Regions from separate parts of the Homo sapiens genome. Here region 1 is reported to be linked to region 2. Evidence: microRNA targets listed by miRTarBase, many of them from high-throughput screens and not tested one by one. Region 2 holds a microRNA gene; the other region holds the end of a gene's coding sequence. Distances are from middle to middle.
What was found. Region 2 holds the annotated microRNA hsa-miR-1199-5p (CCUGAGCCCGGGCCGCGCAG, at 2,421-2,440, opposite strand). A microRNA usually pairs through its seed, bases 2 to 8, with sites in the 3' UTR of a target mRNA and lowers its output. Matches are read on the target gene's strand: a 7mer-m8 pairs with bases 2 to 8, a 7mer-A1 pairs with bases 2 to 7 and ends in A, and an 8mer does both.

Region 1 (4,000 bases), 38 Mb from region 2:
CTTTTGTCTGTTACAAATGTGGGAAGGCTTTTGTCCAGAAATCAGAGTTGATTACCCATCAAAGAACTCACATGGGAGAGAAACCCTATGAATGCCTTGACTGTGGGAAATCGTTCAGTAAGAAACCACAACTCAAGGTGCATCAGCGAATTCACACGGGAGAAAGACCTTATGTGTGTTCTGAATGTGGAAAGGCCTTCAACAACAGGTCAAACTTCAATAAACACCAAACAACTCATACCAGAGACAAATCTTACAAATGCAGTTATTCTGTGAAAGGCTTTACCAAGCAATGAATTCCTAGTGCATCAGCATATTCATAAATGAAATATACTCCGAGTTTCTTGAAGAAGAGAAAATCTTCTCAGAATCAGGTCTAATTATATGTTATTGAATTCATGCTTCAGAAAAACTCTAGGGATGCACTGCATGTGTGAACACATGATAAAAAAGTCATGCTTTATTTTAGTGAGGGCAATTACAGAGAAAAGAGTAAGCAGAAATGTCCTTCTGAGTACTGGCCTCATTAAGGATTATAAATTTTCTCCCCGGGAAGAAACCCTGACTAACGCATTGAGAAAAGCCTTTCTGTAAAGAATGGTACAAGACAGGTTGTTACTCGATTATTTATAGTAAAATATGTGGGAAATTATATCAATGATAACCCTGTTTATTGTGGGATATCAATATTTTTAAAGTGCCAACACAGTCATGATAGGACAATATTTTATGTGTGTGTGTGCGCCTTATGTATATAAGCATATATATAATATATAAGCATATTATTATATACAGGTTGAGTATCCCTTCTCCAAAATGCCTGGGATCAGAAGCATTTTGGATTTCAGATACTTACAGATTTTGGAATATTTGCATTATATTTATTGGTTGAGCATCCCTAATCTGAAAATCCAAGATTAAATGCTCCAATTAGCATTTCCTTTGAGCGTCATGTTAGAGTTCAAAAAGTTTCAGATTTTGGGTTTTCAGATTAGGAATACCCAACCTGTATGTACGTATATTTCTGTATCTATGTATGTATATATATGCATATGCAGACATATGTATATGGTCTGGTCAGCATATGTGTATGTATGCGTATGTATGTATGTATGTATGCCCTCAGTGCAGTGGGGTTTGCTGCAGAATTCACTGCATAGCAGGAGATGTAAGCAGATGAGTTATTTTTTAAGAGAATCTAATCTAATTGTTTTTATAAAAATTATTCCCTATTGAATATTTATATAATGAGGTTGTATCAACAATGATTAACTCCTTTATTATACATACACATGAATGTGCATTTTTGGTAAATGCATAAATGAGATTCTATAATGTTTACTGATCTTTATATTACAGATTTTCTCTTCTTTTAGGATTAGCTCAGCTTGCCCCCCCTTTCCATCTCCACCATCTATAGTGAGCCTCTCCATAATTAGTGCCAACCATTAGTCTCGTTCATATTTTTACACCAGGAGTCAACAAACTGTGGCCATTGGCCAAATATGGCCTCCCAACTGTTTTTTTAAAATAAAGTTTTATTGGAACACAGCCATGTTCATTTGGACATGTATTGTCTGGGCTTCTTTTGTGCTGCACTGGCAGAATTGAGTAGTTTTGGCGGAGATCAAATAGCCCCCAAGCTGGAAACTGAAAATATCTACTCTCTGGCTCTTTACAGAAAATGTTTGCCAGCACATGATACACACACAAACACACACACATACACACATATTACTATGTTCATCATCATATACCTGTGTAAGTACTCTTTCATTGATTTATAAAACTCAGATCTCTTACGTGTGTGGATGGTATTTTTTTCATTCTACAATCCATGATGGATTGTACACACGTGTATTCTATGAGGTTGACCTGCCATAATTTATTTAGCCATTCCCACAGTTTTGATTACTTATTTCCTCCCCACACACATTTTTTGCTAAAAAACGGAGAGGGAACTGTTATCAATACTTCCGAGAAGCAGACCAGCATAATCTTTTAAGTGCACAGGCCCAGGAGCCAGGTTCCTGCATTTGATTCCTGGCTCCACTCTCTACCCTCTGCATCTGCTGAGCAAGTTATTTGGTCTCATCTATTCTGGTTTTCTCATCTACAAAAGGGAGATGATGATAGTACCCTACCCCCATGCATTTGGTGTGAGAAGTGTGTGTGTGTTAAACCCTTGGAACTGCATGGACAGACCAAGTGCTGATGAATTTTAGCGGGCCTCGTATCCCTGAGCCTGCCTGGTTCCCTTGTGCTGGGTGTGGGACTGTGGTGGGAGATTTCTGTCAGCTGGAAGTCTTTTCCAGAAGGGTGTTAGAGATGGGCACCCATGGCTTTAGTCTCCATACCCCTTCAAGGTTGATAGGGGCCCACACAGCTGGTCAGGAACCAGCACAGACCTCAGGCTGTGTCTAAAACAAGGTGACTGCACATGCAGGAGCCTGTGCTGGGCCCTGGAGAGCAAATCTGTTCTGTGTCTCACTGGCCTCTCCCTGTCCAGGGGCGTAGTATCAGTGACCATGTCCCACCTCCTGAGAAAGGTGGAAGAGTCTCACCTGGGGAGTCCAGGTACAAGGGCTGGCCGGCCGTAGATGACTGGTGTGGGGTGGAAAGGCTGCAGAGGCCTCTCCATGGTGGTGAGGGGTGGAAATAGTGTGCACCTGGGTCCTGGGAGTGGCACCCTGACCAGTTTCAGGGAGGAAGGTGGCAGGGCCCTAGGACAAGTGTGTTAAAAACTTGAGCCCACAGTGTAGACACACTGGTTCCAAAGACCCCTCAGGATGTGCCTCCCTTCTCAGATCTGGGCTTTCCCTGTTCCTAAGCATCACCTGGGGGGATCACTCTGGGTCCTCATCTCCAGCCACATGTTCACTCCTCACGTGGGCCTCCCTAACTGTCCCCCTCAGGGCAAGCCCTTCCTCCCCACTTCCAGAAAGCTGCTCGTTCCCTGGCCATCCCACACCTCTGACCTCGTGCCACTTCCGGGGCCTGTTGGCTTTAACAACTTAGTTTCCTCCCTACCTCGCAACCCCCTCTGTCTAGAGTGCTCACCTCCCTCCCAGCCTCTGTCTCATACTATTTTTTCTTTCCTCTCAGTACCAAGCGCTGGGACAAGCCAGTCTGTACTCAATGCCTGTGGGATAATAGACGGAGGAATCTGGAGTTTGGTTGGGTGATTAGCTTTGGAATTGATGGGTCCCAGGGAGCTATCTAAAGTTTTCAGTCACATGAGGGCATGCTCACAGATCTGTGAAAAGATCTGTTGGCTCAGAGAACTAAGAGATGAATAAATGTTAGTCCAATGGCCTCATCATGAGATGAGAGGTCAAGAGTTTTGAGTTTCCAGAGGGAGAAGCTACTATTCTAGGCAGCTTGTATGAACTAACTCGTTTATTCCTCACAGCCATTGTAGGAAATAATCTAACCTCATAAACCCCATTTTAGAGATGAGGAAACAGGCTTAGAGAATTTGACGTAAACTCAAGACCGAAAATCTAGGAACAAGAAAAGCCTGGATTTGAACCAAGCTATCTGATGCCAGTGTTTTAACTCTCAACCATTGTACTACTTTACCTCCTCATGACCTTTTTTTTTTTTTTCTTGTGAGATGGAGTCTCGCTCTGTCGCCCAGGCTCTGGAGTGCAGTGGCACGATCTCAGCTCACTGCAAGCTCCGCCTCCCGGGTTCACGCCATTCTCCTGCCTCAGCCTCCCGAGTAGCTGGGACTACAGGCGCCCACCACCATGCCTGGCTAATTTTTTGTATTTTTAGTAGAGACGGGGTTTCACCGTGTTGGCCAGGATGGTCTCGATCTCCTGACCTCGTGATCCCCCCCCCTCGGCCTCCCAAAGTGCCCATGACCTTTTTATTGTTGGGCAGTGAAAGCCATGGTGAAATGAAGAATGTCCTACTGTCATGTGATGTGATCAGAAAACATACTGCCCAGAGTCCCCTGCCCCCACCCCCAAAACCAGTACTTGATCCATCCTTT
Region 2 (4,148 bases):
CTGGAGTGCAGTGGCCCGTTCTTGGCTCACTGCAACCTCCGCCTCCTGGGTTCAAGTGATTCTCATGCCTCAGCCTCCTGAGTAGCTGGATTACAGACATGCACCACCACGCCCGGCTAATATTTTGTATTTTTAGTAGAGACGGGGTTTCACCGTGTTGGCCAGGCTCGTCTCCAATTCCTGGCCTCAACTGATCCACCCACGTCGGCCTCCCAAAGTGCTGGGATTACAGGCGTGAGCCACCGCGCCCGGCCACGGATGCTTTTGGAAAGCAGAAACTCTTGACCCAACACCACGAATGAGCACGTCTCATAGTGAGGACCCATGAGGTCAAGAAGAACGGTGATCATTAGGAACTAATAATGTTGAGAAGCCTGAACCCTCACCACCTCTTTTTTTTAGTAGCTATTGTTTACGTTCCCAGGGTAGGAACAGCCTCTTATCACCACTGTCTAGCCAGTGCCCAGCGCAGGGCACATCGTTGGCACCAATAAATGTTGACGAGGAAGCCTGGAAACGAGAGGGTGTGAACTCGGTAAGCGCGCCACATTTTGCGCCCGGGCCGCCAGGGGGCGGTAGGACCTGGGCCAGGCCGTGTCTGGCCGTGCCGGGGGAGGCGGGCAGCCCCAGAGCAGGGCGGTAAGGGCGCATTCCCGCATTCCGGCCCGCACCTCTTGGGGTTTTCTCGGGCCTCCCTCGGCCCGCCGTGCTCCCGCCCCACCCCAGACGAAGAGGACCCAGAAAAAAACAGGCTGCAGTGCCCTGAAAGAAGAGGCTTTATTGGGGGTGGGGGGAGTGGGGCAATCGAGGCGGTAACTCCGGCCCTCTTAACAGTCAAGGGAGAGGGTAGTTCAGTTTGCAATTAGGCAGAGAAGGGCTGGGCAGTTTCACTGGCGGAGTTGTGGGTGGTGGTCAGTTTCCCAATGGGGGACTGTAAGTTTTATAGAGGGGGCTGGTCAATTTCACAAAGGCAAGTCGATTTCATCTTCCCCAATGCAGAGAGCCGACCCTTCTCCAGGCCTAATGCTAGACGCCCCCCGCCCTGTTCCTCTGACGCGTACGTTACTTCCGGCCGGGGGTCCCAGCCTTTTCAAACCTCAAGGTTTGCGCTCCTCCTGGGGACAGAGGACCAGAAGGAAGGCCGGCCTCAGGGACCTGCGCACTGCATCCAGGCTCGGGGTGGCGGTTTGGGCCTCAAGACCACCGTCTCCTCTTCACCCCGGGGATGCGTCCCAGACTGAGTTCTGACCAGAGTGGCCCTCCAGGGAGGATGCACTTTTCCCCACCAAGCGTCCTGGCACCGGAGGGGTGGGGGGACCGACAAGCGCTAGAGGCACACGGGTAAGGGGGCTCCCACCTGCTCCAGGCCGTTCTCCGAGACCTTTCTGCGGGGGGGCCAGATCACCACCAACTTTCCGTCGCCCCTGCTCGCTGCGGGGGAAGGGGCGCTCAGCTCACCAGCTGGCGGCAGCCAGGATGAAAGGCCGGCCGCACCCCTTAAACACACACAGGCGTTCACCCTCCGCCTCCCCATGAAAGCCTCCATTCAACTCCAGGCACCCAGGAACCCGAGGGAGGAGGGAGGTGAACCCAGAATGGAGAAGCAGGAGCCCGAAAATTCAGAGGGAGGACCCAGGAGTGCCAGAACCCAGTCAGGGTTCCCTGGAACCCGACAAAAAGGAAGACATCTGGAATGCCCCCACCCCCGCGCAGCCTGGGTGGTGTGGATCAGAGAGTCCATCACTCCCGGTGGAGGGGTGGATCACAGCGAGTAATGGAGCTCCAGAAGGGGTAGGCAAGAGACAAAATTGAGAGGGGGTCTGGGAGCTTGGAGGGAGAGACCCCGAGAATCGGAGGGCCACAGGAGGGGCCACTGAAGTTGGGCAATCGGTGGGGGCGGCTGGAACCCTGGGGGTCCCGGCGTTGCTACGCCCGCGGCTTACCGGTGAGGCTCGGCGTAGGCTCCTTGAACTCCGCGGTGCCATAGACGCTGCGCCGCTGGCGCTGCAGTTCCTGCTCGCGCTCGCGCACGGCGCGCACCTCCTGCTCCAGCAGTGACGGAGTGAAAGGCGGCGGGGCGCTGCCCAGCACCCGGCACCCGCCCTGCACGGCCGAGCGCGGCCGTCCCCCAGGCTCTGGCAGCCTCTGCGGGCCCGCGCCGTCCCCCGCCCCCGCCGAGGAGCCGCTCCCCGCCGCGGCCTCGAAGAAGCGCTTGAGTTCGCCCAGCGGCTGCGGCGGCGACCGGGCGCGCGGCTCGGGGACCGCGGGGCGCGCCAGCGCCGCCTGCCGGTGGGCCTCCCGCTCGATGTCCCGCTGCATCTGCGCGCCCGCCCGCGCCCGCTCCAGGGCGCGCGGGAGCGCGGGGCCAGGACCCGGCAGGTTGAGCACCGGCCGCACGCGCAGCTCGACGAGTTCACGGCCTGCGCGGCCCGGGCTCAGGCCCCGGCTCCGGCGCAGGCTCTCCTCGCGTTCGCAGCTGCGGCGGATTTCGCGCTCGATGGGCGTCTCCATGAACCGCTCCTCCGGGGGACGCTGGGGAGCCTCGGGGCACGGCGGAAAACGCAGGTGGGGGGCTTCCGAGCCTGACCTGGAGGAGGAGGTCTTAGGGCCTGGAGGGGGATGCTGCCCCTGGACCTCCGCCCTTTGCGCTTCGGACGGCCCAGGGTCGTCTCTGCCTGGCTCAGGACTCTCAAAGCCCGCAGCTGTGGACAGCCCGGGGCTCTCTGCGTCCTGCTCGACTGATGGCTCGAGGACTTCGCTCTCTTGCTCCAGGATCTCCACGTCCTTTGCGGAGGGCTTGGGGACCTCGGTGTTCAGCTCCGCAGCAGCTCTGGGGCTTCGCTGTCTGGCCCTGGGGACTCCTGGCCCTCCTCTTCAGACGACCCCAGGGTTTCGTTCTCCGGCCGGTGGGGGCCTTCGTGTCCAGGGTTGGAAGCAGTTCGGAAGCCTCAGTTCCCAACCGGGGTTTTGATTCCCAGAGCGAGGACAGAGGGCACTGTGAGGCACCTGTGGCGGCAGTGGCGGCCGTGGGTTCCAAGGCGTCGCCCGCACCGGCGGCTTCTCTGACCCGCCTCTGGCCTCCAGGAACGGCCCCCGGGGGCAGGGCCGGGCACCGCCCCCGGCACCTGCCAGGAGGACTCCCGCCCCGCCCTGGCCCCGCCCTCGGGACAGGGGCGCCTCGGTGGGGCACTCAGTTTCATCAACTAGCGCGCCCAGTCACCTCAGGGCACGGGACTTCTTGGAAGAGGGCTTCCCTAGACCCGGCCCCGCTCTCTGGGGGGCCATTCTGGGTGCTGGGTTCTACTGAGCGCACCCTGGCACTTTTTCAGAGCCATGTCCCCGTCATCGTCCCGGAGACTGGGCCCAGCAGCGCGTCGGACTGGGGTTCTGAACCACTAGCCGCTTGGTGAGGTGTCCCCCGAAGCCGTATTTTCGGGACCCGGGCAGTCCCGCTTGGTCGTGCCAGCCGGCAGGCAGCGACTCCTCAGGCCCCTGGGCCCTCCCTCCGATCCAGCCTTGCAGCGCACAGCTCCGGCCCGAGGGGGCGCCAGGAGCCGCCTTACTGGCCGCTGGGGTCTCCCTACCAATGCTTGGGCTCAGCGAGGTTCCCAGCCGCGCACCACTGCCCCCACGCCAAGCCGAGAAGCGGCTTCCCCTCTCCTCCCGGAAAAATCCGGGAGGTGTCCGCTGCCAAGGGCACTCCCGGATTGAGGGAGGAGGGAGAGACGGACACAGTGCGCCGTGGGCGCAGCTTAGCGGTTGCAGTTGAAAGGCGGTCACCTTGGGCCCGGGCGCCTGGGGAGGCCCAGACAGGAAACAGGAGGCGTCCAGGGTAGGGGGAAAGAGCAGCTGGGGCCGGATCATGCGGTTCAAGGGCAGGATCGATGCCCTTGCGCGGGCCACCCTCCCCTAGGGACGTTTTCCACTTTCCCCCTAATGGAAGCAGACTCTTCCCAGAACCTGCCCCCAACCCCACCATTCTGGGGTGCCCAGAAGGAAAAATACAGTTACCGGCCGGGCATGGAGGCTCATGCCCGTGATGCCAGCACTTTGAGAGGCCGAGGCGGGAGGATCACCTGAGGTCAGCAGTTCGAAACCAGCCTGGCCAGCATGGCCAAACCCCGTCTCTACTAAAAATACAAAAAAAA

Region 1: miRTarBase lists ZNF175 as a target of hsa-miR-1199-5p. Seed matches in the 3' UTR shown: 8mer at 3,274-3,281.

Annotation. Positions count from the first base shown.
Region 1 is chr19:51,588,172-51,592,171 of GRCh38, forward strand. ZNF175 (zinc finger protein 175) reads left to right here. Exons shown (of 5, transcript NM_007147.4): 5 at 1-4,000. The coding sequence ends at 296. LINC01530 (long intergenic non-protein coding RNA 1530) reads right to left here. Exons shown (of 2, transcript NR_034159.1): 2 at 3,612-4,000. Among named protein-coding and RNA genes, the nearest start is that of LINC01530, 4.2 kb to the right of the region's middle.
Region 2 is chr19:14,071,673-14,075,820 of GRCh38, reverse strand. It overlaps MIR1199 (microRNA 1199), which reads right to left and starts at 2,460; the gene lies at 2,342-2,460. MISP3 (MISP family member 3) reads right to left here and starts at 3,035. Exons shown (of 3, transcript NM_001291291.2): 1 at 1,944-3,035; 2 at 1,358-1,431; 3 at 759-1,115. The coding sequence starts at 2,511. The coding sequence ends at 1,098. RefSeq lists silencers at 409-644, 2,067-2,476, 3,047-3,216 and an enhancer at 1,359-1,879.